Linked DNA regions of Homo sapiens. The gene in region 3 interacts genetically with the main gene of each other region. Each region holds a gene or a part of one and is shown on either strand. Other genes may lie near its edges.

Evidence for each region.
Region 1: changes in UBE2J1 (region 3) and TRPC6 together harm fitness less than expected from each alone (positive genetic interaction), as found in Homo sapiens cells (one large-scale study listed by BioGRID).
Region 2: changes in UBE2J1 (region 3) and RAB1A together harm fitness more than expected from each alone (negative genetic interaction), as found in Homo sapiens cells (one large-scale study listed by BioGRID).
Region 4: changes in UBE2J1 (region 3) and MAN1B1 together harm fitness less than expected from each alone (positive genetic interaction), as found in Homo sapiens cells (one large-scale study listed by BioGRID).
Region 5: changes in UBE2J1 (region 3) and B3GNT2 together harm fitness more than expected from each alone (negative genetic interaction), as found in Homo sapiens cells (one large-scale study listed by BioGRID).
Region 6: changes in UBE2J1 (region 3) and CUL4A together harm fitness more than expected from each alone (negative genetic interaction), as found in Homo sapiens cells (one large-scale study listed by BioGRID).

What each region holds. Positions count from the first base shown.
Region 1 is NC_000011.10:101,573,394-101,578,421, forward strand, and holds part of TRPC6 (short transient receptor potential channel 6), read right to left. Parts: intron 1-5,028. UniProt on the Homo sapiens protein: Forms a receptor-activated non-selective calcium permeant cation channel. Probably is operated by a phosphatidylinositol second messenger system activated by receptor tyrosine kinases or G-protein coupled receptors.
Region 2 is NC_000002.12:65,095,154-65,100,181, forward strand, and holds part of RAB1A (ras-related protein Rab-1A), read right to left. Parts: intron 2,914-5,028; coding exon 2,818-2,913; intron 1-2,817. UniProt on the Homo sapiens protein: The small GTPases Rab are key regulators of intracellular membrane trafficking, from the formation of transport vesicles to their fusion with membranes.
Region 3 is NC_000006.12:89,331,322-89,336,349, forward strand, and holds part of UBE2J1 (ubiquitin-conjugating enzyme E2 J1), read right to left. Parts: intron 4,111-5,028; coding exon 3,981-4,110; intron 1,885-3,980; coding exon 1,765-1,884; intron 1-1,764. UniProt on the Homo sapiens protein: Catalyzes the covalent attachment of ubiquitin to other proteins. Functions in the selective degradation of misfolded membrane proteins from the endoplasmic reticulum (ERAD) and is essential for cells to recover from ER stress.
Region 4 is NC_000009.12:137,102,902-137,107,278, reverse strand, and holds part of MAN1B1 (endoplasmic reticulum mannosyl-oligosaccharide 1,2-alpha-mannosidase), read right to left. Parts: coding exon of another isoform or gene 2,914-4,377; exon of another isoform or gene 2,303-2,913; intron 1,155-2,302; coding exon 964-1,154; intron 591-963; coding exon 470-590; intron 30-469; coding exon 1-29. Other genes in the region: uncharacterized protein LOC124902313, read right to left, coding at 3,069-4,377. UniProt on the Homo sapiens protein: Involved in glycoprotein quality control targeting of misfolded glycoproteins for degradation.
Region 5 is NC_000002.12:62,198,416-62,203,443, forward strand, and holds part of B3GNT2 (N-acetyllactosaminide beta-1,3-N-acetylglucosaminyltransferase 2), read left to right. Parts: intron 1-5,028. UniProt on the Homo sapiens protein: Beta-1,3-N-acetylglucosaminyltransferase involved in the synthesis of poly-N-acetyllactosamine. Catalyzes the initiation and elongation of poly-N-acetyllactosamine chains. Shows a marked preference for Gal(beta1-4)Glc(NAc)-based acceptors.
Region 6 is NC_000013.11:113,243,395-113,248,422, reverse strand, and holds part of CUL4A (cullin-4A), read right to left. Parts: intron 4,014-5,028; coding exon 3,909-4,013; intron 3,475-3,908; coding exon 3,364-3,474; intron 3,272-3,363; coding exon 3,186-3,271; intron 2,468-3,185; coding exon 2,360-2,467; intron 1-2,359. UniProt on the Homo sapiens protein: Core component of multiple cullin-RING-based E3 ubiquitin-protein ligase complexes which mediate the ubiquitination of target proteins. As a scaffold protein may contribute to catalysis through positioning of the substrate and the ubiquitin-conjugating enzyme.

The DNA.
Region 1 (5,028 bases), on a different chromosome or scaffold from region 3:
AATTCTTTGGCAAATTATTTTACCTTTCTGAACTTCTTTTTCTGCATTTACAAGTAGAAATAATATTACCAACCACACAGGTTTGTTGTGAGGATCAAATAAGCTAATGTAAATAAAGCTAGGGCCTGGCATAGTCTTATCTGTGTTTTCAAGTTAGCTAGAGAATAAAATCCAAACTTCTTAGCTTTTGGACAGATCATAAACAATACTGTTTGCCTTGTAATCTTTCATGTTTCCTCTTCTTTCTCATTTACAGTAACTCTAGCCCACTGAACATCATATTTCATTGAGTGTAAGACACATATTTCTCCCATTTTAACTTTTCTACATACAACATGTCTTATAATCCAAGCCTTCTTGCAATCGCTGTCAGTCAAGTGTCAGTCATTACCGTGACATAGTTTTCATCATCAGTGCATGTGCCAACATTAATAACAATGGCATCCAGAGTTTCAGAATGAATGGCATGGTTTGAAAAAAATCCTGGGAACAGTAGTGAAGCTCCTTTCAAGCCTAAGAAACAAATACGTGTGTGTGTGTGTGTGTGTGTGTGTGTGTGTGTGTATGTGTGTGTGTGTTGAGAAGGGTGGAGAGTACGTAAGGAACAGTGTTGAATCAGATTTGTTTAGCAACATTCTGGAACTGTTACTCAAAACAGTCTACCTCTATGTAATTGCAAACTCAGTTTAATTGTCTAGCACCAAAAGCTTTTGGTCTATTATGGATTCTTTAGATTGTTTTAAAGAAATCCTTCATCACCAATGTCCTTTTGGCACAGAGCACAATCCTGTGGAAAAATATGGGCACTGAAGCTTCTGAGTTGAAAAGTGATTCTGAAGACTCCATCCCCAAATGTGAAGGAACTTAGGAATACCATAACAAATTTGTTTATTTTTTAATTATGTGCATAAGAGTTATATATGATCCAAATCTATATCTAATTGAGTATAAAGAACTGTTTTAAGAGGTATAAAATAAAAATCTAAGATATAATTTAACTGATAACACTTCTTTTTGCTTATTTCTTAAAGATACATAAAATGTCAGAGCAGGTTACAATTGATAGAAGCTTAGACTTCATGCTATATGGTATTCATTGGTTACCCTAAAATGGTGCCTAACATACCAAAGGAACTTAAACAAATGTTTGTTGAAATAAATTAAGAATCTTTCCAGATGGAATACAGTGTCTGGCCCTGAATGCCCCTCCAAGAAAAGGGTTCCTGCAGAAATCCCTCCCCTAGGTTAAGTGTGGGGATTTTCTTACTGCCCAGGATCAGCTTTTTATAGCTGCTTCTGCCACCCTTCAATCTACTCTATACAAAATTCTGTTTCAAGAAGGCTAACTCAGTAATAACAAAAATGATTTTTATCTGTAACAGTTTAGCTCCCTAAAAGAATTTTTAAGTTACCTTTAGAAATTGCCATTTCTAATTCTTATTTTGACTCCTAACTCTCAAGATAATTTTATTAGCGATTCCCATGAAAAGAACTCTTCCTAGTTTTTTTGTTTTTTCTTTTTTTTGTGAAGGTTTTGTGCTACTACAAGTCAGGACAAAATGCTTTTTGTATCACAAACCAAAGCTGGTGCAATGGAAACATGAACTCTGCTTTGAATAGGCAGTCAATCTTAACATGACTATCCACACTGTAATTGATTCCTGGCAACTTATATTTTTAGACGAATACCATGTAAATGCTTTAAAAATTATGCAAATCTTGTGGTTAAATCCCCAGTTTCACACTGTCATGTGAGTCAATGTCTCTAAAACAACCTGCATTATAGCATAGAAGCAGTTTTATCCACATGATGGCAATGAAAAGTAAAAGAAAGCCTTGCCTTTTGCAATCTTTAGTCATGATCAGTTTGTGGATCTTTGGTAACATTAGCAATCGACACAATTTTGTTAACATTCATAGTCTTCCTTTGGTGACAAAGACTGGCAATTTTTCAAAACCTAGTTTCACTCTTTATTGAAATAAGAGATAAAACAAAATCCTTTGCTCTTCCCTTTCTTTCTTCCCATTTGTGCCAACTGCTAGCTGTGTAGCATTTGGCAAGTCACCTACCTTCTTTTTACTGTCATTCTTTTTTCTTATCAGTAAAGTGAGGATTATAAAAATGCATATCTCATAGGTTTGTGATACGGATTAAATGAGTTAATACCTACAAAGCACTTGGAGAAGGGCCTAGCACACAGAAGTCGCTAATAAATCTAGCTATTATTTCTATTCTTGCTGGACATAATCATATAAAATCAACAGAGATGAATGAATAAATAGATTAATGAATTAATGAAAGAAGTGAGATATAAAGCTTGACCTCCAAAGATGGCTAAGATTTCAACAGAAAGAGAAAGTGGGGGTTAAACATACTTATTACTGCTATTTATGCCCTTTTCTTCCAGTCTTCTATCCGTACCCAGGATATAACTTAGATATAATGAGCACAGCACAAGGAATGTTGGTTCAGTAGATCAGAGCCAACGTGTGGCTTTCCAAATTCCTATGAAAAGGGAGAAGAGAAGGAATGGGGGTGAGTGCGCTTTTGAAGAGCATAATCCACCTGTATCCAGCTGTGCCTGGCTGAATACTGAGAGAATAGAGGACTGAGATATGGGATACTGAGAGAATCTGCCAGCCCCATGGTCCACGTGTTCCAGCCCCAAATATATTGGGTTTTGCCCACTTGACAACAACCTACTGGCTGTGTAACTTACTGCACATTGTTTAACATTTCTAAATTTCAGCATTGTTCTTTATAAAACGGATGCTAAAAATAGCTGAGTAGATGCTCTGAAGATCAAATTACATTTGTATGACAACTAGAAAAGAACCTGCTACAGAATAGGTATTCAAAAAATGTTAGTTGCCCCAAATATATATAAATATTTTGGATTAGTCCTCCACAGAAACAGCAACTTACATTAAACTGTATGTAATTCTAGTTAACATCATTTCTCCTCTTTGTCATGGCTGAGAGCTGAATTAGGTGGAGAACAGTTATGCTGCAATCATATAGGTTGTTTGAGTATGTGTAACACTCATTTCTGTATTCTGCTCTAAACAGAGATTCTATAAGAACTGTGATTCAGTCAGTTCCAATGGCTTAAAGCCTCTTGAGCAGCATACCAAATTTTAGATGCCAAAGTTTAATTGAAACTTGGCATATGGATGAACACTTCTGCATGTATTGAAAGCCATCAGAAGATTCCTAAACAAAGAGCAATCACACACATGGTAATTTTATCCAACTGGAACCAATTATATTTGGCATTTTTTATGAAAGAGGGAGAAAAATAAGAATGGACTCAAGAAAATGTTTTCCTTTTATGACTTTTACCCTCTTTAAGATGAATTGCCTTATGAAGTTACTTCTTACAACTCAAGGAGCATAAACTGTCTAGAGAAAAAAAATTATGCAATGTCTTCCTGGAGGCAAACATTTTGTTACAGAATAAATGTGGACTTTTAAGCACATCTGGCAATCATTCCACAACCTACAATGCTGGCACCCTAAAAATGCTTCACGATAATAATATGTTACCAGTAGAGTTGATTACTTCAAGCCAGGGGAGGTTTCAACACAAAACAGGTCATTTCCATGCAGAATACAGAGCTTCAAAGTCATCAGCTATGAGACCCACCATTAATCCAAGTGGTTGGGGGAGACGATTACTCCTAATAGAAGGGGAGCCAGATTTGAAGGTGGTTTTTACACGTGCTTTTCCCCTGGAAGAGCAAGCTTCCACACTGCAATCTTTCACCAAAGTCTAGGTCTTGGCTTTATGGTTATAGATGCCATTTCAAAGGGTATACTAGATTATAGGATTCTTTCTGCGTTCTAGACCACTACATATGTATAAGAAATCATTGTGTCGCACATGTTCTCTTTTATTGATTTCACTTACCATTCAATAAATATGTCTTGTTAAGAAAATCAGCCCTTTAATTTTATTTGGAAATACCTCGTACTGCTGCTGGACTGTCATGTTCTGATGTGACTGCCCCTTTGGGGTCAGAGAGTAAAGCCACACTTCTGTAGGTCAGTGGTGGTATCTTTGCTTAAAGGAGTAGACATATCTAATGTCAATCATCTAGGAAAGAAGGAGAATTTTAAAAAGAAATAAAGTTTGGAAAATAGATATTACACCAAAGAAAAAGGTTGTGGCGGGAGGTGGGGAGGCAGTCATTCTTCAGTCTGGGCTAGGACAAAGGACTAGATTGATTGAGGACGGTCTGCAGAGGGAAAACAAGAACGCTCGCTGCCAGATAGATAATGCTTGGGGCCAGGCAAGGGTCAATCCCCAGGAGACTCCATAAATGAGCTGGAAGAGCAGTTATAGCCAGCCAGGAGTTTTTCCCTTTTTATTAATTCTCTTTGGTAAAGATATAGCCTCGCCTCAGGTGTGCAGAGGGAACTTTAACGGAAGAGCCTCAGGCTAGAGAGCTAAAAGAAGAGTAGTATGCTGGTGGCAGTAGTGATTGGTGAAAGATTCCCTGAAAGATGAGTCTTTGTGACAGGCAGCTGGAATACAAGATATAGGTATCTCTTTTGATATGGACATTCACTCTTCTGCCCAACTTAGCTGATCCAGATGCTATTTCATTAAAGTAGCTGGCATCATTTTATTCCTTATTTGAATAAATATCAAGGAGGAGGAAATCTCTTTGTTGAGGAATAGATTAAATGGTACCTTCTCTCTGCTAGGCACTGTGTTAAGATAGGGGGATGAAGGACAGACCCACTTCTTGTGGCTTACATTCTAGTCAGAGGAAAAGGACGTGTGAACAAATAAATGTAAAAATGTGTAACAGATGTTTCAATGAACATAGTTGCCAAAAACAAGGGAGAGATAACAAGGATATAATAATTTAATATGATGCATAGGCCTGAGTCCATGTTCTTCAATCTTAAACTTCTTTAAGAGACTAGTTATCCTATTGGCAAGTAATATCAGGAAAGATTCTCTAGCCTACAGTCTGAATTTTTCATTCCCTTATTATCAATGTGTTCAATACTAACTT
Region 2 (5,028 bases), on a different chromosome or scaffold from region 3:
ATAAAAAAAATAACTGGCAACTAGAGGTTTTGTGGTTTTTTTTGTTTTTTTCTGTATGTTTTGCAAAGATGAGGTTTCGCCATGTTGCTCAGGCTGGTCTTAGACCTCCTGAGCTCAGGCAATCTGCCCACCTTGGCCTCCCAAAGTGCTAGGACTATAAGCGTGAACCACGACGCCCGGACAGCCACTGCGCCCAGCCTTATTTTGTTTTTGAGACAGGGTCTCTCACTCTGTCCCCAAAGCTGGGGTGCAATGGTGCAATCTTGCCTCACTGCAGCCTTGAAGTCCTGGGCTCAAACATTCCTCCCACCTCAGTCTCCTGGGGAGCTAGGACTACAGGCATGGACCACCACACCTGGTTACTTTTTTTTTTTTTTTTTTGGTAGAGATAGAGTCTCTATGTTGACCAGGCTGGTCACAGGAGCTATGTTGACTCCTGGCCTCAAGTGACTCTCTGACCTCGGCCTCCCAAAGTGCTGGGATTACAGGCATGAGGCAACATGCCTAGCTGAAGTTATGTGTAAAATGGAACTAGCTATTTCGAAAAAATGGTAAGCTTCTTAAAAATGTTCAAAAACCCAGGCGTGGTGGCTCACGCCTGTAATCCCAGCACTTTGGGAGGCCAAGACGGGTGGATCACTTGAGGTAAGGAGTTTGAGACCAGCCTGGCCAACATGGCGAAATCCCATCTCTACGAAAAATACAAAAATTATCGGAAGGCTGGGCACAGTGGCTCATGCCTGTAATCCCAGCACTTTGGGAAGCCGAGTCAGGCAGATCACGAGGTCAGGAGTTCGAGACCAGCCTAACCAACATGGTGAAACTCTGTCTCTACTAAAAATACAAAAAATTAGCAGGGTGTGGTGGCGCACGCCTGTAATCCCAGCTACTCAGGAGGCTGAGGCAAGAGAACTGCTTGAACCTGGGAGGCGGAGGCTGCAGCGAGCCAAGATTGCACCACTGCACTCCAGCCTGGGCGACAAAGCAAGGCTCCATCTCAAAAAAAAAAAAATTGTCCGGGCATGGTGGTACACACATATAATCCCAGCTATTAGGGAGGCTAAGGCAGGAGAATCACTTGAACCCAGGAGGCGGAGGTTGCAGTGAGCTCAAATCGCGCCACTGCACTCCAGCCTGGGAGACAGAGCAATACTGTATCTCAAAAAATAAAAAAACAAACAAACAAAATGTTCAAAATGAGGCCTTCAGGCATGGAAAAGAAATTCCTATTAAAGATGAAAGACAGACAAAGATGAAAGACAGTGTCCTATAAGATCCCTTCCAGCCACAGGAAAGTAACAAAATATGAATGTTTCACACACGAATACACACCCAAATCTTATAAACACCAATGATCACACATAATACAATTATTCCATACCAGTGCTTTAAAGTACAGTTTTGGGTAGATCTTTATGTGCTCTTTATGGTGCCAAATAAAAGGTTGAGACTGTACTTATATCGTGGGAAAAAATATGGAGGGTAATTTGTTCACTGATTGAAAGTATTTCAAGCTATTTCTGAAAACTAAATCCTTGCAAGTCCTAATTTGACACATCAAGTGTGTTTACTTATATCAATATCCACAGCCACCTATCTTTTGTTAACATACCTTCTTTTCCTCATCAGAGTCATGTAAGAAAAGGGAGCAACTTAACCTATCAAACACCCATTTATCTGGGCATGTCATATCATAAGTAGTATCTATATGCTGCCCAAAAGTTTACAAAGGGCTTTCACACGTATTGTCACATACACAAAGCTATTACAGTTGGTTCTCACAACTAGCTTATAAATTAGTAAATCAGGTGTCATCACACACATTTTAGAAAGGAAACTGGGTCTCAGGGTTACTTCGGCCTTTTCCCCAGAGACACAAACCCATGATTCTCTAACAGGTAAATACTAGAACCAAGACAACAAATCTAAGTCTTCTGACTCCTAATGCAGGACTCCTTCCAATTCCATGTGTCATCAGTTCCATGAAAAGGGGCAGTCACTGGTTTCCTGTGTTTATAGCCTACTTCTTGCTAATAGCCTACTCTGAAAAATACTGAGAGATTTATTTTTTAAAAGACCACAGATATGCCCACACTGACAGGACTCAGACCCATACTGAAGAGGCACAACTGAACTATTATAATTGCCTATATTTAATTGGGGGCTGGGGGTGTAAAGATGGATAAGGGGGATAGGATGGCACAGAGACACAAAATATTGAAGACAGAGCTTCGGTCACTTGGTTCTACCAGTAACTGTAGGCAAGTCATTAAATCTTTCAGCATTCGTTTTTTTGAGCAGTAAAATGAACATGTTACAAAAACTAAGTTCCTTTTTCCAACAAAATTCTGTGTTTCTACAGAGTTGGTGCACACTATCTAATAAAAATACTTAGAACTACATAAGTACTTCTCTTCAACTGAGCCACATATGAAGAATCTCTTCCTAGGGTTCCTTTAATGTTCCATGCACTTAGCACAGTAAAAGACAAACAAAAATGGTCTATAACATTTGCAGTGTAGGACAAGGTAAACTTGAACTTAGATTTCCACTGATAAAAGAAAAAGATGAGGACCAAGTTTGACTTAAAACATGAGTTTCTCTGCTTCATGAATAGAAAATTCAATGAGGCTTAAGTAATCTTGAAAATATTATTTTTAATCTAAGTAATTCTTATTCTACCATTCTATCTTAAGTACATGAATCTTAAGACATTTTACATTCAATTTTGTTAGCATAGTAAATATATACAAAATAACAATACATTACAAATTTACCAAAATAAATTTCAAAAAAATTACTAGCCAAGTCACTTACTATTTGAAGCTTGATTGTTTTCCCGTCTAACTCTATAGTTCTTATTTTGAAATCCACACCAATTGTGCTGATGTAGCTTTCTGTATATGTATCATCCTGAAGGGGGAAATAATTAACAATTAAATGTATTGTTCAGTGGAGCAGATGCAAGTCTAAGTGGAAAAAAAAAAACTGTTGTTCAAGAGTAAATAAAAAAAAAGTTTACTTTTATCTACAGTCCAAATTTATGAATGAAATGTATAAAGTATAACATGCTGACAACAGCCACTCCATCCACTTTCAGTACTTACTTCATATTCTGATTACAAAGCACTACTTAACTGTAGTTTCTTTCCTTAAGATCTCTACAATAGCCATTCTTTATTTTTTCCAAACATCATCTCTTGCCAAATTCTTTACATACATCATATAGAAAAATATTTTATATTTTCAATGATTATGAATAATTTTTCTAATCACTAATCAGCAAAACTCTTGCGACCCACCCACCCAATTTATTCACCACAAAACAACAATTTCACTCCGCTTTTTCTTAGAAGTCAATCTTGCTTCCTAATTATGATTTTTTTTTTTAGATATAATGCACATAACATAAAAGTCACCCTTTTGAAGTGGACAATTCAGTGGTCCTTATACATTCACAAGGTTGCAAACTACAACCACGAATTCCAGGACATTTTCTTCACTCCAGAAAGAACCCGTCTTCACTCCCTGGCAACCACTAATCTACTTTCTCTTTAGATTTGCCAATTTTGGACATTTCGTATAAATGGAATCATAAAATATGTGGCCCTCTGTGTCTGTCTTCCTTCATTTAGCAGAATGTTTTCAAGGTTCATCCATGTTGTACCATGTAACAGTACTTCTTTTTTTTTTTTTTTTTGAGGCAGGATGTTGCTCTGTTGCCCATGCTGGAGTGCAGTGTCATGATCTCAGCTCACTGCAACCTCTGTCTCCCGGGGTCCAAGCAATCCTCATGACTCAGCCACCTGAGTAGTAGGGACTACAGGCGTGCATCACCACGCCTGCCTAATTTTTGTACGTTTAGTAGAGACAGGGTTTCGTGATGATGGTCAGGCTGGTCTCAAACTCCTGACCTCTAGTGATCCCCCTGCCTGAGCCTCTCAAAGTGCTGGGATTACAGGTGTGAGCCACCATGCCTGGCCCATTTTATTGGCTGAATAATATTACATGTACTACAAATATACAACATTTTATCCATTCATAAATTGATTTGGGTTGTTTCCACTTCTTGGCTATTATGAATAATGCTGCCATGAACATTTGTGTACAAGTTTTCCTGTGAATATATGTTTCCTGTCAATTTTTTAACCTAATGTTAAACTTTTAAAATTATAACTGCTTCTTGCAAGTACCTGCCATGAAATTTTATTCAGAATGGAATAAAAATATTTCTCGTGAAAAGATATATGAATGAACAGACCAGGCTATCATCATATGAACCACAAAGCACCACCTAAGAAGTACTCTGTCAACAAAGATGGACCTTAATCGAATCAGGTCTAATGAGAACGGCACTGCCAAACAGAACTTCCTGTGACAATGGAAAGGTTCTATAAGCTGTGCTAGCCAATATGGTAGCCATTAGCCCTATGCAGCTTGTGAAACAAGAAACTAAGTTTTTGATTTTTTCAATTATTTTTCCCCCTTAAAGGGACAGGGTCTTGATGTCTCCCAGGCTAGAGTACAATCGTAGCTTACTGAAGCCTTGAACTCCTGCACTCAAGCAATCCTCCCACCTTGGCCTCCCAAAGTGCTGGGATTACAGGTGTGAGCCACCAAACTTTTTCAATTTTAATTAATTTAAATTTAAATAGCTACATAGAGCTAGTAGCTACTCTAAGGATAGTGCAGTTCTAGGTCTTCTAATTACAGAAAGAGGGACAAACAAATAAGCATAAGGACATCACAAGGAAGCAAAATGACAAATCTAGAATATTGGACAATCTACAGGACAAGTGCTTCAGTTTCTGCAAAAAGTCAATGACATAAAAAATATATAAATAAAAAAGATAAGGTATAAAACTCTAGATTAAAAGACTAAGCAAGAAAACAACCAAATGGAAACTGTATTTTGCAGGTTGATAATGGCAATGTCATTTTATAAGAAAATGTTTTTAGAAATATGGGCCGGGCATGATGGCTCACACCTGTAATACCAGCACTTTGGGAGGCCAAGGTGAGTGGATC
Region 3 (5,028 bases):
TTGGTATTTTCACTAAAAATAGTCTCAATTAATGACCTGTATCTATGAATAAGAATTCTAAGTTTTATGTACTAAATCAAAACAAGAAATACTACTATAATAACATCATTATTTGTACACTCTAATTTACTTAAACTTCTTGATTTATTTAATTGTATTCTTAGCATTTTTTAAAGTACCAATCCTAAGATTCATTCATTCAATCAACAAACAAACATTGGCAATCTACTATATAGAAGGCACTAAGCCAGGCACTGGGGATACAGTGGAGAAGCGGAAAGAGACCCCTGACCCTCACAGAACTTACATTCTGGGAAGAGAGATAGACAATAAATAATTACAAAGTAAATTACAACTGGAATAAGTATAACTGGAATATGTAACAAGGGGACTTAACATAGATTGAAAATACACAAAAGATTTAAATACATCACAAACATTAGGAGGCTGTCCTAAAAGGTGAAAAAAGATTACCACCTTCCTTTTTGTAATAGAATGCTTCTATTAGAAAAAAAACTATGAAATAAAAAGTAATTAGAAAGCTTTTTCAATATCTTGAACTAAAACATATTGACCTTAAAATTAATTCATTGTTTTCCCCTGCAATTCATAAAATTACATTGGGATCACACAAAAATGATTTAAACTCATCGCTACACACTTTTTTCTTGGACCTCCATCTTCAGTCCCCCTAGACTACCACCCTGTTCTTCTTCAACCAACTTTTCTCTGCCCAGCTCACTCTCTGAATAGGAGAGACTCACTCAAGACTATTCACTCCCACTTTACGTACGTTATTGCTGGGTAAAGGGCAAATCTATATTTGCCCAACTTCTATTTCAATTTTCCCTCACCCTTTAAAGTCTTCAATAAACTGGAGAAACAACAACAAAAAAAATGTGACTACTTAACCAAACAATCTGTTACCAAAAAGACTTCCAAAGACAGTTAATCTTTTATATATAGGAAGGAAAATCATTTTTTTCCCATAATCCTTATTTTTTGGCACCAATCCAGTCATATTTTTTAAATCACTCTCTCTGATCACCTAGGCCAAACAATTTCTTAGACAACAGGTCAGGGCACCACTAACAACACTCATAGCATTCATTCTTTTATTCAACAATTATTTATTGGACACTTAGTATATACGAGGTAGCATTGTCCAACAGAATTTTGTGATGATAGTAATGTTTATGTCTACACTGTCCAATATGGTACCCATTAGCCACATGTGGCTATGGAGCACTTGAAATGTGGTGTGACTGAGGAACTGAATTTTAAATTCTACTTGATTTTGATTAAATTTAAATGTAGACACCTGCATGTGGCTGGTGGCTACTGTGTTGGACAGAGCAAGTCTAAGTAAATTTTTGGCTCTACGACTTTATTAAGTCAGTACCTTAATGCAGCTGAACAATCCTGCCAAAAATAGTGTCTATTTAGAAAGTGGCTAACATATGGATATTTTGTTTTATTCAGTCTAACACTATATTAAAATTAACTTTTCAGAGAATCACAGAATTCTGGAGGGACAAGACAAAAATTATTTAATCCAGCCCCATTTAACAAAAAAAGAAAACTGAGGCCAGAAAGCATGAACAACTTGCTCAACATAATAATTCATTAGCGGGACTGATGAGTTAGAATCCAGTTGTTAAGAGAACCAAATTTTTCAGATATTTGATCCAGGATCTTCTCCTCCTATTGCAAACAGTGATAATGATAGAGACATACATATATATTAAAAGATAAGAGCCATACCGATGTACTGGCCGTAGCACCCTGGAATGTTGTAGGTATATCATCTTGTAAATCAGTTAGTGAAAAAGAGTGGTTTAAGTCTGACTCAGAGATAGTCTTTCCAGATGAATTGACTTCTGCCTATAAACAAGATAGACCCAAGAGCAGTGTGACAACAGGAAACAACAGGAAACATACACAATCTACAACCTGCTAAATCCTCTCTGTTGGATTTATTTTAATTGCTAGTTTAATATCTATTATCAGGCAGTTAATCACTGAGCACTCTTGTGTCCAACACTGTACTAGGTATCATAGGAAGAAGCATACACAACACCTGTTCTCAAGAAGCCGTTACTTGATGAGGGACAAAACTAACACCCATGGTTCACAATCCACAATGCTAAAAAGCTCTCAAAACTCAAGGTTTTTTTGGTAATTTTTAGGCAAAGCCTGATATGAGCTGATGTGAACCTATGAATAGTCTTTATCCCACATTAGTGTAAACATTAATCCCACATTAATGTAATATTCCCAGATTTGCTGAAGAAATCCTAATGGATTTGATTATGAGGTGCTGCCCCAGATCGCACGGCAGGTTAGTTAATATATGGTATATGTAAGATCTTTTCTTAAGTCTGAAAAATTCTCATGTACAAAACACATTTGGTCCTGAGATTTTTCAGAAGCAATTTTAAGTGTAATAGGAATCCTCAGAAGGAAGAAAGTAAACATGTTCTGAGCAACTCCTCCTCCAGGCACTACAATAAAAGAGAAGGGAACTGGACCTGGAAAGACAGACAGTCCATAGAGAAGTGGAGAGGGAAGAGGAAGAGAGCATGCTGCTTAATGCAGGTTGACATTTCTGTTTGTGAAGCTAATTAAATTCCAGAAGGATTAAATACTTAATACTTTACGTCTGTATGTATGTATGTATTTATTTATTTATATTTTTTTGAGATGGAGTCTCACTCTGTCACCCAGGCTGGAGTGCAGAGGCACAATCTTGGCTCACTGCAACCTCCACCTTCCAGGTTCAAGCGATTCTCCTGACTCAGCCTCCCAAGTAGCTGGGATTACAGGCACACACCACCATGCCGAGCTAATTTTTTGTATTTTTAGTAGAGACAGGGTTTCACCGTGTTAGCCTGGATGGTCTCAATCTCCTGACCTCGTGATCTGCCTGTCTCGGCCTCCCAAAGTGCTGGGATTACAGGCGTGAGCCACTGCGCCCAGCTAATACCTTCAATAATTAAATATTTAATACTCAAAGTATTAAAATATTATATAATCCTATGTTCGGGTAAAACATATACAGAAAAAAGGGATATATAGGAGGGATGCCAAAATATTAACAGTAGCTATTTCTTGGCGGTGAGATTATGAATGTCATTTTCTTTTTCTTTTTTCTTTTTTTTTTTTTTGAGATGGAGTTTCGCTCTTGTTGCCCAGGCTGGAGTGCAATGGCGCGATCTCGGCTCACCGCAACCTCTGCCTCCCAGGTTCAAGCAATTCTCCTGCCTCAGCCTCCCGAGTAGCTGGGATTACAGGCATGTACCACCATGCTTGGCTAATTTTGTATTTTTAGTAGAGACGGGGTTTCTCCATGTTGAGGCTGGTCTCGAACTCCTGACTTCAGGTGATCCGCCCGCCTTGGCCTCCCAAAGTGCTGGGATTACAGGCGTGAGCCACCGCGCCCGGCCATCATTTTCTTCTTGTTGCTTATCTATATATTCTGTAATAATAGCTAGAATTTATTAAGCACCAGGGACAGTTCTGAATGCAACACATGTATTACATATATTAATTCAATCCTCACAGCAATCCTATGATTTAGGTACCATTATTATTTATAGATAATAAAAAGGCACAAAGTGGTTAATTAATATGTCTGACATCATACTACTAATAAGCAACAGAGCTGGGATTTGAACCCTGGCATTGTATACCAGAGTTCAAGTTTCACTCCCTCACTATTCTATAAAGCTTTCATGAATGTAGTTAGGAATTTTGTAATAAGAAAAACATTCCATGCCAGTATTAAAACATTTCATGTACCCTATACATATATACACCTACTATGTAACCACAGAAATTAAAAATATAAAAATATGAAAAAAGAAAAACATTGGCAAATGTCATATTGTAATAGAACTGCATCGCTTTCCTTTCTATGCAGAATCCAGCAGTAAACAAAAGGGTTGCAAGATTAGCATTTATTTAAGAATTTATAGTACCTTAAAGCTTATTTGCCTAGCCAGTTCTTTGGCTTCTTGGTCAGCTTGGCTTGAATCGCTTCCAGATTTTAAAGGCAACAGGACATCCTTCATGGCAGAGCCACATCCTTCACAACAGAAATCTTGTGATCTAGTAGAAAAAGATTTTTTAAATGAAAATAAATAGTTAAATGTTTAATTCCCTCTCACTGAGACACTCAAATGCTCGATCATTAAACTTAAAAGAAAGGAACACTGGAAAATTCCACATCACATTTATCCACATGCTATGAATTAGAAAATTAATGTAATGATTATAGTCCTGAGACAAGTAAATGTTAGGCTGGCTTTAAAAAAATCCAGGGCTCAGATGCTATTTTTTCCAATAAACTATCTAAAGAAAAATAAGTTTTACATCTATACAATGAGAAAATTGTCTATTATACTGTCCTTGAGATCACATATAACAAACCTATTTTAAGGCTGTGAAAAAAGTCCTTTAACAAGATCAAATTATCTGTTAGCAGAAATATATATAAAGCAGTAAAGAAACTAATTAAACATAGAATTTACAGATATTTCTAGGGAAAAAAAAACCCCTCACAAATAGCAGTATAACTTGAAAGACTTGGGAGAACTTGCAGAAAATCCAAAGACTTAATTTATTGCTGATTATACATTAGGTAGAGACTCAGGATATGTCTGTTAACTAGATTATTTTCTAAAATATATTTGTTTTTCCATTTTTCCCTTTGTATTCCAGATATAGTCAAAACTTCCTTGAAGTTTACAAGAGTCCTCTGAGGATATGAATGACTGAAAGTAAACATGCATCATATATAAAACATATATTGTTACACTGTTAAACTTCCTTCTAAAAAATTGTTTTTCATAGTACTTCTAGTTCTATTAAAAAACCTTAGGTCTTGAAGAACATGCTATTTAAAATTATGAAATATCATATAAACAAAATATATGTAAAAGTAGCAATAATTTAGTTTTTCTGTTTGTTTGTTTGTTTGTTTGAGACAGGGTCTCCTCGTTCTATCACCCAGGCTGGAATGCAGTG
Region 4 (4,377 bases), on a different chromosome or scaffold from region 3:
GTCCCTGGCAGGAAGCACACCAGGTGGTCCTGGAATCAGAGGGTCTCTTCAGCCCCAGATCCCAGGCCCTGCCCTCAGCCTGCAGCTGCACGGGCAGCCAACGTGGGAGCCCAGCGCTGCCTCGGCCCTGGTACCCTGGGAGGGGAGGCCACGCGAGGGCACTTGGCATGGAACAGCGGAGCTGCCTGGACCAGGCCCTCCAACCCGGCCCCCACACACCGCCCGAGGACCTGCTACACACCGGGCACGGGGAGGGAGCTGCCCTGGGGAAGCCCTGCCCACCCCAGGTGCCACACAAGGCCTTACTGCCCTGTTGCCAAGACAGGCCTGGCCAGGCAGCCACGGTCCACCCAGGGCCTCCACGTGGGCGCCATGGCCAGGATTTCGTTCTTTTTGACATCATGACTCAGGCACCTTGGAAGCCAAGGTAAAAGGGGCGGCGGCCGGAAGGCCCCGCAGACACACTCACCATCTTGGCACTGAAGCGGCCGTGGGCAAGCTCCCCCACAAAGGTGAGCTTACTGGGCTCGGAGTGCCGCAGCAGGTGCGTTCTGACACCCTCGATGGCTTCCACGTAGTCTTCCAGCAGCCTGTGGACACCAGCAGTCATCTCACTCTACCAGGACGGTGCATCGGCTCCCGTGGGGCACCAGGGACAGGCACATCCTGGGCCCACACAAGTACAGCAGGCCTGGCCCTTGCCGGACAGAAGGTGCCACCCTGCACAGCCCATGGCCCTCAGTGAAGATGCCCCCCTCACCCCCCCAGAGGCCACGGTGAGAGGTGAATGAATACGCCCTCCACATAAATGCCTGGGCCAGGCCTGGCACGGCTGCGGTTTCCTGACACACAGTGTGGCGGGGGGCAGCAGGAGCGGGGGCCGTGGGAGCTGGGGGCAGCAGGAGTGGGGGGCTGCGGGAACGGGGGAGCCGCGGGAGCTGGGGGCAGCGGGCCGGGCCTCACTGTGTCTCCTGCTTCCCGCCCTGGATCCACTGCTTCAGCAGGTACTCATAGTAGCTGTCGGCCCTGGCGCCCAGCGTGAATACGCCCAGGTGGGTGAAGAGGCCACTGTGGGTATTGATGAACATGGGCACCAGCCCATCCTTCTTCCCAGACAGGCCGTGGATGTGCTGTGTCACCTTCTCCACTGCCTCCTGCGGCAGAAAGGGGGATGGTGGGTTTACTGGCCAGGGCCGAGCTGCAGGGTGAGCTGTAGAGGGGCTCTGTGAGCTCTGCCTCCCCTCGCCCCAGCACCGACTGACTCCCAGCAGAGAGAGCTCTGTGCCCAGCCCACAGCTGTCCTTGCCCACATGGCTCCTGGTGGCCGTACCACACAGCCACACAGCCACCAGTGCAACGCACCTGAATGTCACTGCTCCCAACGGGTGGTCACCACAGAGCTGACCCATCTTCAGGATGGCTCTCATCCCTTACTCGAAGGGACAGCATCTGACAACCACAGGCACTGTCCTCACGAGAGCCCACCAGGCCTGGCCGTCAGCCATGGCTCTGGAGGGACGGCAAGTGTGCCTGCCTTCTGAGCCCAGTGTTGCTCCTGATGATATTAAACGCCTCGGCTCCACGCCCTCCTGGTGAGCTCCTACTCATCCTCCAAGTCACAGCCACCCTCAGCTCCTCAGGGCTTACGCCCAGCTGGCAGCACCAGGCGTCCTGGCCCACAGAGGGGCACAGGGTACCGGGATGTTAGGGCACGCCCAGCAAGGGCGCTCCGGGTCTCTACCCAACGCAGACACCCAAACCCATGCCCAGCACCTTCGAGGCCTGGCTGCCTATCCCTGTGTACCGGCAGCAACCAGAGGCCCTGGTGACATGGGGGTGCCCATGGGGGCCTGGGGCCATTTTCTGAGCTGCAGTGAAAACGCCTTCTAAATGTCTGCATGGGAGCCTCACGTGGATGGCGTGTGGGAGCCTCACGTGGATGGTGTGGGCTGCACTTCTCACCACAAGTGGTCACAGTTGCTCTAAAGAGGGCTGTGTCCAGCTCATGATTAAAAACAGGGACTCGAACATGAGGCCAAATACATGAGCAACAATAAACTGACCAGCTGTGCTTCATGAAAATGACAATCTGTTATCTATCAAAATACACCATTAACAAAGTAAAAAGAGGCCGGGCACAGTGGCTCACACCTGTAATCCCAGCACTTTGGGAGGCCAGTGGGTGGATCACCTGAGGTCAGTTCCAGACCATCCTGGCCAACATGGCAAAACCCCATCTCTACTAAAAATACAAAAAAATAACGGGGTGTGGTGGTGGGTGTGGTCCCAGCTACTCGGGAGGCTGAGGCAGGAGAATCGCTTGAACCCGGGAGGTGGAGGTTGCAGTGAGCCGAGATCGCGCCACAGCCTCAGGCAGGTGTGTGCACCCACACTCACAACACCCAAAACACAGCCTCAGGCAGGTGTGTGCACCCACACTCACAACACCCAAAACACAGCCTCAGGCAGGTGTGTGCACCCGCACTCACAACAAAGCAGAGCCTCAGGCAGGTGTGTGCACCCACACTCACAACGGCCAAAACACAGCCTCAGGCAGGCGTGTGCACCCGCGCTTACAGCAACCAAAACAGCACAGTCCTGGTGTCCACCAGAGGAGAGAGGATTAAACAAAAAGTGGCCTAGCCACGCAGCAGATATTCAGCCTGAAAAAGGAATCTCTGAAGCATCTTTCGCGTATGAAGCTTAAAGACGCTGAGTGAAAGGAGCCCAAATAAAAGGATAAATCAGCCGGGTGTGGTAGCTCACGCCTGTCATCCCAGCACTGTGGGAGGCCCAGGCGGGTGGATCACGAGGTCAGGAGTTTGAGACCAGTCTGGCCAACTTGGTGAAACCCTGTCTCTAATAAAAACACAAAAATTAGCTGGGCGTGGTGGCAGGCGCCTGTAATCCCAGCTACTTGGGAGGCTGAGGCAGGAGAATCACTTGAACCTGGGAGTGGAGGTTGCAGTGAGCTGAGATCACGCCACTGCACTCCAGCCTGAGTGACAGAATGAGACTCTGTCTCAACAAACGAAAACAAAAAAAGGACAAATCGTGTGTGACTGCACTCACACGAGGAACTCCACACAATGAGGTCCAGGAAGAAAAACCTGAACAGTGTTTTTCAGGGACTGGGGAGGGACATGAAGGGTCACTGTGTGATGGGAGAGCTTCAGTTTTAAGATGAAAAGGGCTCTGGAGATGGAAGTGATAGCTGCACAACAGCATGAATGTGTGTAACACCACTGACCTGTACTCCTGCAACAGCGTGAATGTAACACCACCGACCTGCATGCCTGCAACAGCATGAATGTGCAACACCACCGACCTGCACGCCTGCAACAGCATGAATGTGTAACACTACCGACCTGCATGCCTGCAACAGCATGAATGTGTGTAACACCACTGACCTGCACGCCTGCAAGTGTGAATGTGTGTAACACCACCGACCTGCAAGCCTGCAACAGTGTGAATGTGTGTAACACCAACCTGCACACCTGCAACAGTGTGAATGTAACACCACCGACCTGCACGCCTGCAACAGCATGTGTGTAACACCACGGACCTGCACGCCTGCAACAGTGTGAATGTGTGTAACACCACCGACCTGCACGCCTGCAAGTGTGAATGTGTGTAACACCGACCTGCACGCCTGCAACAGCATGAATGTGTGTAACACCACCGACCCGCACGCCTGCAAGTGTGAATGTGTGTAACACCAACCTGCACGCCTGCAACAGCGTGAATGTAACACCACCGGCCTGCACGCCTGCAATAGCGTGAATGTGTGTACCACTGACCTGCACGCCTGCAACAGCGTTGTGTGTAACACCACCGACCTGCATGCCTGCACCAGCGTGAATGTAACACCACCGACCTGCACGCCTGCAACAGCATGAATGTAACACCACTGACCTGCACGTCTGCAACAGCGTGAAAATGTGTAACACCACCGACCTGCACGCCTGCAACAGCATGAATGTACCACCGACCTGCACGCCTGCAACAGCATGTGTGTAACACCGACCTGCACGCCTGCAACACCATGAATGTGTGTAACACCACCGACCTGCACGCCTGCAACAGTGTGAATGTGTGTACCACCGACCTGCACGCCTGCAACAGTGTGAATGTAACACCACCGACCTGCACGCCTGCAACAGCATGTGTGTAACACCACCGACCTGCACGCCTGCAAGTGTGAATGTGTGTAACACCAACCTGCACGCCTGCAACAGTGTGAATGTAACACCACCGACCTGCACGCCTGCAACAGTATGAATGTAAGACCACCGACCTGCACGCCTGCAAAAGCGTGAATGTGTGTAACACCACCGACCTGCATGCCTGCAACAGCGTGAATGTGTGTAACACCAC
Region 5 (5,028 bases), on a different chromosome or scaffold from region 3:
GGTCATTGCTGTAATCAATAGAGAAGTTCCTCCTGGCATCGACTTCCCCTTACCAAAAACAGTAACCCTGTGGTAGCCTTTTAGATTTCCCTGTCTGAGACTGAAATCAGCCACATTTGGCAGATGCACATCAGAAGGTTCTTAAAACCTAAGTAGTATTTTGAGGAAAATAAGCATGATTTGCTTGTTGTTCAAAAATTATGAATTTTTTTCTGGGCTTCTGGTGAAGGGCTGAATATATGAAGGTTTGTAGTTTTGAAAATTTTCTTGTTTTAAAGAAAAGTCATGTTTTAGGTTTCTGATAAACTAAAGTTGTGCTAAAAATAGGAAAGTAGAACTGATAATTCATAGTTGATTTTGACTATACTGTTCAGATATGTGGTTTTTTTTAAAAAAAATAGTTGCATTAGTGAGGCATCGTTGGTATGTTCTGAAGAGAAATATGCAGGGCTTTTTCAGCTGATGCAGGGATAAAAGAAAAGGTGAATCTTCTGTTTCTCAAACTTTGAAACTTAGCTTTAAATGTTTTTTTCTTTTTTTTTTGAAATGGAGTCTCACTCTCCCGCCCAGGCTGGAGTGCAGTGGTGCAATCTCAGCTCACTGCAACCGCTGCCTCTTGGATTCAAGTGATTCTCCTGCCTCAGCCTCCCCAGTAGCTGGGATTACAGGCATCCACCACCACGCCTGGCTAATTTTTGTGTCTTTAGTAGAGACAGGGTTTCACTGTGTTGGCCAGGCTGGTCTCGAACTCCTGACCTGGTGATCCACCCGCCTAGGCCTCCCAAAGTGCTGGGATTACAGACGTAAGCCACCGCGCCTGGCCTTAGCTTTAAATGTTTTCTAGCAATGCTAGGGTTTCATGAAAATCCTAATTTAGGGATGCTGATCCACAGCTGTTAATACTCTTGACATACTGGGTCAGTGCTTTTCATTCTTTCTGACTTGGTTAATGGATGTAGTATTTGACTGTATTTTTCTGTATTTTTTTGATGGTTTTATTGGAAAGTCTGTTAGAGACTTTAAAAATTAATAACTGCCTATGGTTACTTTTATAAACATTGAGACCTTGAGATCTTGCAACTAGGATAATACTTGGTGATGTGTAATCTATTGCAACATCCCTGATGGTGGTACATACATCACCAATACTGAAAGATTCTCATAAAGGCCTTTTGGTCTCTTATGTAAGTGCCCAGGGGAAACTAAAGTCATTTGGTTGCTTGGTATTTTTGGTGTGTACAGAAGGTTAAAACATGAATTAAACTAGACTCTGAAGTGGTAAATGTTTCCTGGCTGCATCCAGTAAAGAAAACAGCACAAACACCCAAAAGGTGTGGACCCAGCTGTCTTTTTCTCCACTCTCTAAGGTGGGATTGCTGTTCCTACGTACTTGCCAAATATGTCTGCAAATTACAGAATGAATACATTCCTCTCTCTGGAGAGGCAATTACTGTTTGAATAAGAGGTGTATGTATGTGTGGGGTAAGGTTTTGGGAGAATTGATGTAATGATTTCATCATCACTCACTGGTAAGGAGACTTTGCCAGGCTGGAACCTGTTACTTGATGGAGAATTTATTATTAGGGCTTATGTGGCACAATTACTTTGCTGCTGGAAAAAGTTATTTGTACTGAGTTTTCTATTTGTTACAAATTTTAAGAGTTGAGATTTTTGCCCTCTGTGTGTTGCCCTGTGAGTATTAACAACCTCTGCCCACCAGCTTTGTCTTTTTGCCTTGTCTTAATTTTTGTAACAAAAATTCAGATGTCTTTTGAGAGTCATAACATGTATCTTGTGCAATTTTAGCTTTAGGTATTTTCATATATAACTTTAAGAATGTTACACATTATTTTCTGTGCATCTATAACTTAAAAAAAACAAAAACCATTTTCTGATGTGGCTACAGAGGGGGAAATTCCCAGTAGCCAGGAAATTGATACTTTCTACTTTTCATTCTGTGGCATTTTAAAACAGAGGGTTCAGGTGTCTTCATTCTGATATGAGTAGGATGTACGTAGCTTACCAGAATGTTTGAAAAAAATGATAATCCAAGGTAATCAATTCTGGCATGTGGCTAGATTCTGTCCGAGTGCCATGTGGTGGTTTAGTGGTTAAGAGCATAAACTTGGAGTCCATAAGATGAGGATTTTTTTAACTTCATGTATAACATGCAGTAAAGTGTGAGAAGTGTTAATATTAAGCATGAGCTCATGTATGTAAGCTCTCAGATTAAGAAATAAACATTTTCAGTACTGCAGAAGGTTCCTGCGCCCATGTCTTGTCCGTGTTCCCACCCCCTCACCCTGAAGGAACTGTTATTCTTTCTTACATCATCATAGATGTGACTTCTGTCATCATAGATGGGTTTTACCTGTTGAACTTCATGTAAGTGGAATCAGTCATACAGTGTGGCATGTAGTCTTTTGTGAAATAGGCTTGAATTCTATTTTTACCACTTATTGTGTGACTACGGACAAGTTATTTAATCTGAGTCTCAGTTACGTATGGGAATGCCTAAAGTTAAAATTACACGAACTATTTCAGGATAAATTTTCTCACTTGTAAAATGGGGAAGATAAAGCCCTATGTTAGATTTACTGGGGAAAGTAATATAAAGCTACACCTAGAATACCTAGCACTGTGCCTGACTGCAGTTTCCTCTTCCCCTTTTTATTTCTTTAACAGGGTGATAACTAAAGCAACTAGATCTTTTGTGTTTAAATGAGCTATTTCATTAAAAGTTCTGTAGGTCTTTTATTGAAAATTAGAAGACAAATCTTTATTTAATACTTTGTTGATATAGCTTTAGCTTTAAGATGTATTATTTGTTAGTTGCCTGTTTTTGACATTTCCTCTCTAAAGACAGTCATTGAAATGTCCCATTCAGAGTTGTTTGGCCACCTGTGTAACATGAGCTAGGATGCAGTGATGAGAACTGGTTTATGGTCAATTATGGAGCTTGTGGAAGAGTTTAGTTTGGGTAAGAGTCATCAATAAGTGCCCAAGATGCTCACAACATCTGCTTTATGTTTAGTGAAATAATTATTTCAGAGGTGAAAGCACAGGACCAATTATTTTAATTGCTTGCTTCAGACAAGCCACTTAAAACATTTTCAGCTCTTGTAATCTTACCGTGTAAGCGGTATTACATAATTCCATGGCCTCATGTCTCCTTATTTGTTTGGTACTTTTCATTTTTGGACTCATTCTGCAAATGTAACTTGGGTAGTACTTGGCATTCTTTCTAAATGACTTTCATTAAATGTTTATTTAGAAAAAGTATTCAAGATAAAGTAAAGGAAAATAAAACTAATTCCACCCTCTCTCACCACTATAACTACATTAACTTGATGTGGGTCCTTCTAAGTGCTCATTTCTTCTTTTGTACACTTCTAGAATGACCTTAGGAAAAACATACTTCCAATACTTTATGGAAATTTAAAACAAAATATGGGCCTGCTTAGAGATGTCTAGCAGAGAAGGCAAGAGTCTTCGTAGGCCTAAGTTCAAATCTGTCCACACTGTGGTCCCTACTTGTACCTTTGTTAGTGCTGAGCAGACAGTCCCCAGAGACTCCATCAGAGGGTCCCCTGGTCTCCAGATTACAGTAGCCAACACGGAAAACCTGCCCTGGAATACTTCTCCATTAAGACCTCAAGATGTTTGGTGAAGTGAGCAGTTTGTTCTCCGACCAAACACGCATTGATTGAGCACTTGGTGTGTGCCTAGCACTGTGCTTGGCTGTGCGTGATTGCTGCCTTCAGTGGGCAGTGTGGTGGAGACAGCCAGGAACTGGTAAGATTGCCTTGGTAGAGGTGTAAGCCAATTATGTGTTGGAGGCAGCCAAGAAAGGCTTCTTAAGGAAGTGGCCTTTGGGCTTGGTCTTGAAGGATGTGAATAACATTTCAGAGGCAGAGAAAGGAAGGTAGAAGTGCTCAAGGGATTGTAGGCTGAGAAAACAGGACACAACAGAAAGGCTCATAGAGGTCTTTTGGGGAAACAGCAGGTGATCCATTGGGTTTGGAGTGCATGGTGCTTAGAAAGGTGTAATAGGCCATGATGCAATCTCGGGGATCATGCAGAGATGTGGCAGTTAATAGTTATGGAGGTAGTGAGGAACCAGTGAAAGTTCTTGTGGTCAGGGGAGAGAGAGAGAGGGTGTGGGTGCTGACAAGTTATGGCCAGGCTTGCATTGAGGAAGATGGGCCTGAGCGTGAATGAGGCGAGCCTGACCCCGGGCAGGTCATTGCAGTCCCTGCGTTCTCTGCTTCCCATTTGCCCCCTACCAGTTTCTCTCAGAAAGAAGCTGGAGGGATCCTTTAAAAACTGAAATGACTTGAGGTTACTTTTCTACTCAGAATCCTCCAGTCAGAATCCCTGTCTTCTTCAGAGGAAAGCCAGAGTTCAAATGTCACCTACCAGGACTGGTGATCTGCCCTCCTCCTCCTACCTCCCTTCTCCCCCTCATTTCACTCCAGGCACAAGGCCCCCAGCTTTCCTGCCTCTGGCCTTTGTGGTGACTGCTCCCCCTGCCTGGAACTATCCTCACCTCTTCTCTGAGAGGAGGTTTTCTCTGATCACCCGGCATAAAGCAGCCTTTCCTTATCCCCTGTGCAGTGCTTCATATTTCATCTAAGTGTTTATCAACCTTACAGCAATCAACTCTGACTTGGTTCTTTGCTGCCTGTTTTCAACACTGCTTGGTTTAAGTAGGCGTTTGACATTTGTTGAGTTAGGCCACTTCATTAAAGTTAGTCTTAGTAGAGGGGAAACTGAGGGCTCAAACCAGGGCAGGGATAGTACAAGATTGAAATATGTATGTGTGTTGTTTGGAAGAGGTGGGTGAGAGAAAGACTCCTGGTGGGTGTAAAGGAATTTGGAAACCAACTAAGGGAGGTTAGGAGAAGGGCCATGACACAGGTATATTGGGGCATTTTTTAGCATACGGGATATGGGAGTCTGTAGTGATGTCTAGGGGACAAGAATAGGGGGTAAGGGAAGACCCAGCAATAGACTTGGGCCCAGAAC
Region 6 (5,028 bases), on a different chromosome or scaffold from region 3:
CAGACCACATATGGGACAATTTAAGCATCAAAATAAGTACATAAATTAAGAATCCCTGAGTTCATAATGATATAAAGAGAGAGAAATAAATAAGTAAATAAAGGGGGTGGAAAGAAGGGCTCTTCCTTAGAATGCCAACTTCTAAATATAGAGAAATGATAGAGCTGGAAAAAAATCCCCATTCACCAGGTAAAAATCAATTCAGCCAGGAATCGCCACACAGGTGACAGCTGGATGAGGATTAAGAGGTTTACGTAGTCTTGAAATGTCTCCTCACAGATTACTTAGTGATTACAAAAGGAAAAACACTAACGATACGGTGGAGAAACCAGCCAGCACCTTCACAGGAGGATCCTATCGAATGTCACCAAGACACTGGGGCACGTGATAGTGCGCACCTCCCGCCAGGATCCTGATGGGGACACGGGGCATCTGGCTGGACCTGCCCAACCTGAACCTACTCACAGGGAGCATCGAAGGCCGCCTGGGTCCTGGGCTCAGCTGGGTACCGGAAAAACACCACAAAGGACATATCTGAGACAACCAACAGAAATGGGGTGAAAGTATTACATCAGAATGAATGCCCTCATTTGACAGGTGCTTATGTTCTTGGGAAATAGCCACTAGAATATTAAGGGGAAAGGGAATGGTGCAGAAGCACAAACATCTGTGGAGACAGGAAGGGACAGCACCACGTGGCCAGCGTGGAAAGCAGGCTGCCTGGCTTTCTTTGAGCATCCCGCACATGTTCTCTAAGTCTGGCTAGGACGCCTCAGAAGCAAGCTCTCTCACTCACCTTCTCCCCCAAAGTTCTCCTGGAATGAGAACTCTTCTTCCCCAAGGCAGGCCAGAGAAAACTCAAACCCCTCTTGCCCAAAGCCAGCCATAAAGCCTGGAGATACTACTCGATGCTTCCCATGCCCTTTTGTGTAGGATCTGGATATTAAGAAGTTCTCTGAACTACCTTGCTGATAGTTAAGTCATAAGACTCTTGTTCCAGAGGTGTCCTGCCCTACACCTGGGAGGAAAGAACATTGCCCAGTGAGGCCAAGAAGAATCTGAACAGACAGGCCTTACTGGTTTCCCCGCTACTCTACTACTGTTAGATGGTACCCTTCTGTCCAGTCACATTGATAAGAGTTTGGGGGTCTGTCCCCTCTAAATCTCACGGTGAACTGTGATCTGCAGTGCTGGAGGTGGGGCCTGGTGGGAGGTGTTTGGGTCATGGGGGTGGATCCCTCATGAATGGCCTGGCGCCCTCCCTGTGGTAATGAGTTACCACGAGATCTGATTGTTAAGGAGTCTGGGACCTTCCCCCACCACCTGTTGCGCCCTCTCTCTCGCCTACTCCCCCTTTGCCTTCAACCTTGAGTAAAAGCTTCCTGGGACCTCATCAGAAGTTGCACAGACACAGGTGCCATGCTTGTATAGCCTGCAGAACCATGAGCCAATGAAAACTCTTTTCTTTACAAATTACCCAGCCCCAGGTATTCCTTTACAGCAATGCAAAACAGACTAACACACCTATTTCTACATGGCTGCCCATTCTTTATCAAACCTAAGCATAACAATGGACAGTCTTCCCTGGGTCTTTGGTCTTCATTTCTGAAGCCTGATGTGTTAAATAAAACTTTGATTAAATAAATTTGTTAAGGTTTTCTCCTCCTAATTTGTCTTTTGTTAAAGGAGCATTGGCCATGACCCTCATGATGGATAAGAAAAGGAATCACACTGTCCTACCACTGTAGCTGTGTGTCTTTCTTCCCTTCTCAGCTGACGAAATCATCATTCATCTTTACTTGATATCAGGCTTAAGGGACGCCTTTTCCAGGAAGTCTTCCATGATTGCAGGCTGGTCTCAGCCCTTTCCCTTCGCCTGGTATTAAATGAATGGTGCATGTATTGTATCTCCTGCTGATGTTAACTTCATTGAGCACAGAATTCTACCTCCGGCGTGCAAACCCTCCACTGAAGGGTTTAGTGTAGCTAAAGTAGTGGCTGACAAAGAAGGCCCTAAATAATGCCATTCCCAAGACTTCAGCACTGTCTACAATGGAAAGAAAGAACAACCAGACAAGAACCGCAGCTTAATAAGCCATAACTTCCAAAACAAGTGCCTGTGCTCATGGGCCCCCTGCAGGTCAGCAGGTGGACACAGGCTGCACTGGGAGGAGCCACAGAAGGTGACAAAAGTGGTCACTTTCTCAAGCACATTTCCAAAGACCATAAGAGCACTTTGATTTTGGACTGAGTGGGCTATTTTTAAAAACTCCCCATTCAACAATTCTTGAAGGCAACATATCTGTGCCTGGTAAGGGCATGACAGCGGGAGCGGACAGCATGCTTTCTGCACACTTACTTCTGGGGTTAAGTGCACTTCCATGGGCGTGTATGTTGGCCAGTAGCCCATTGTGAGTATGTTCACTGTGAGGTCTATAGGGCCTGAGTCACTCTGATTCTGCATATGCTAAAACAGAGAAATCCAAGACAATCATTTTGAGAAAGTAATAAAACATAATTAACCTAAAACAAAATAAACCGTGTAATTTTCAATATAAAGTTTCATCTGTGTTAGAATTTATCTCAGTCCCCAGAATGTATTCCATGAAACCCAATGCCTCACTAGGACTGCCTTTTTCCCTTCTTCAGGTGTCACCACCAGACTCACTGAAATAAAATTCTTGCCACACGTTTAGATCTTCTTTTTCTTCTTTTAAAATTTACTTGTGAAACGTTAATAGTGTAATTTTCTTCTTACATAGAGTGAGATTCATTCTATCTAATCTATTGAATCTACCTACCTTATCTATTTATCTATCTATGACAAGGTACTGCTATCTCTGTCTATGTATTATCTATCTATCCACCCATCCACGACAAGGTCTCACTCTGTTGCCCAGGCTGGAGCGCAGTGGTGCAGTCACGGCTCACTGCAGCCTCAAACTCCTGGGCTCAAGTGATCTTCTCACTTCAGCCCTACCCCAGTAGCTAGGACTACCTGTTCATTAAAAAAATTTTTCTTTTGTAGAGACTGGGTCTTGCTATGTTGATCAGGGTAGTTTTGAACTTCTGGCCTCAAGAACGTCTCTTGCCTCTGCCTCCCAAAGTGCTGGGATTACAGGCATGAGCCACCACACTAACAGATACTTTTTAAAAAGCCGCTTTACCTAAGAAACACAACTCACCTGCTTGAAATGAACCATGATGTCCTTCGAAAGCTCCATGTCCTTGAACATGCCTTCCAGCTTGCTGGTGAAGGCTGCACCGCACTCTGGACACAGCAAAGGAGGGAGTGAGATCGGGGTAACACACGGGGCAGCAACCCTCAGTTACAGGGGAGGAGCCCAGGCCCCACATACTTACCATGCTTGAGCTTTGACAACATAGACTTTTCAGCATCGACTGAGGCACTTTTCCCAACAAGGAGTCTTTTTGCCAAATCTTTTTTATAAAATGCTTCAAAGACATCTTTACCTATTTATAACCAGACGAGAATAATCAAGACATCAGAGAGTTGATAAGCAAATGTTAAACTTCAAACTTCAACTGCTGAAAACCCTTAAAAGTGTTTTTTTTTTTTTTTGAGACAGAGTCTTGCTCTGTTGCCCAGGCTGGAGTGCAGTGGCGCGATCTCGGCTCACTGCAAGCTCCGCCTCCCGCGTTCACGCCATTCTCTGCCTCAGCCTCCCAAGTAGGTGGGACTACAGGCGCCTGCCACCACGCCTGGCTAATGTTTTGTATTTTTAGTAGAGACGGGGTTTCACCATGTTAGCAAGGATGAAAAGTGTTCATTCTAATGCAAACTGGCTCTACTGATACTGACATTCTCATGCTAAACCTCCTCTGGGAAAGCAGGGCCTGTTTACACCTCTTGATTATGCAGCATTTTCTGAGTGCCCGAGTCTCACCGTGGATAAACCTGAACAGGATCATGATCTTGTCCAACGTCCGCTCCAGCTCCTCGTCTGTGGCTTCTTTGTTGCCTGCTCTTAACTTTGAATCCACATGCTTTGCTGTGAGCATAAACATATAGTAAATACTCTAAACTAGAAAAAGAGAGCATCTTCAATTTCTATTAGCAACATTGTACAGGAACATTCTGGAACCTTCCCAAAATGACTATATGACAAAAAAACAAATATCTGATTTTCTAAGGTAAGTACTTCTCAAGTCAAGTGAGAGTAAATACTTGCCAAAATTTTAATGAAGCCAGGACTGAATGTTTAAAGCAGGTTTAAATATCTTTCTTATCTTTAAATGCAATCTCTGAATTTCAAAATAAAATGACTTCAGCAAATACATGCTCAGGTTTCAGGACGTGACTGCCCCGGACGCTGGAGTGCCTATTTCTAGGATCTGGTGTCATGAATGCAGAGGAGACATTCTCAAAGAGAAAGACTTTCTCAGAGCATCCAAGGTGGCAACGCAGGGTGAAAGCATTTCTACTCGGGCTTCCTGTTTCTGAGGCTGCACAAGCCATCGTCAGGTGGCTTGGGAGGGAGGACCAAAGTCCCCATGTGATGGGAGAACCCAAGACTTCCAGAAGCCCAAACTCCCAAGAGCTCAACATCCCTTTGCTTTAGAGAAACCACAAATGATACAGAGGAACAAAAGCCAAAGTAAACTGCCTCCTGAATTCCTTCTGTTGCTGTTTTTGTTAGTTTTTTTCTTTTAAACATTTTGTAATGGAATATTCTGAACACACAGAAAAGCAGACAATTGCACAATGAGCTCCATGTTCCATCTTACATCTTCAGCAGTAATCAACAGTCAATCTAGTATCGTCGTATTTCAGCTCTCTTTGCCCCCTTTCTCCTTCGAATTAAAAAAAAAATTTTACTGACTAGAGAAAGCCTATGAATTCTGAAATATATTTTGATATTATTGTGAAAAAATTGTACAGCTTAAAAATAGTATTATCATTTGAGATCTCATCTGGTTTTATCCTATTTTAATATGGATTAGAGGATACAAAGATGGTGATCACCCCTCCCTTCTTTGGCGAAGTCAAGCATCATTTCTTTTCTA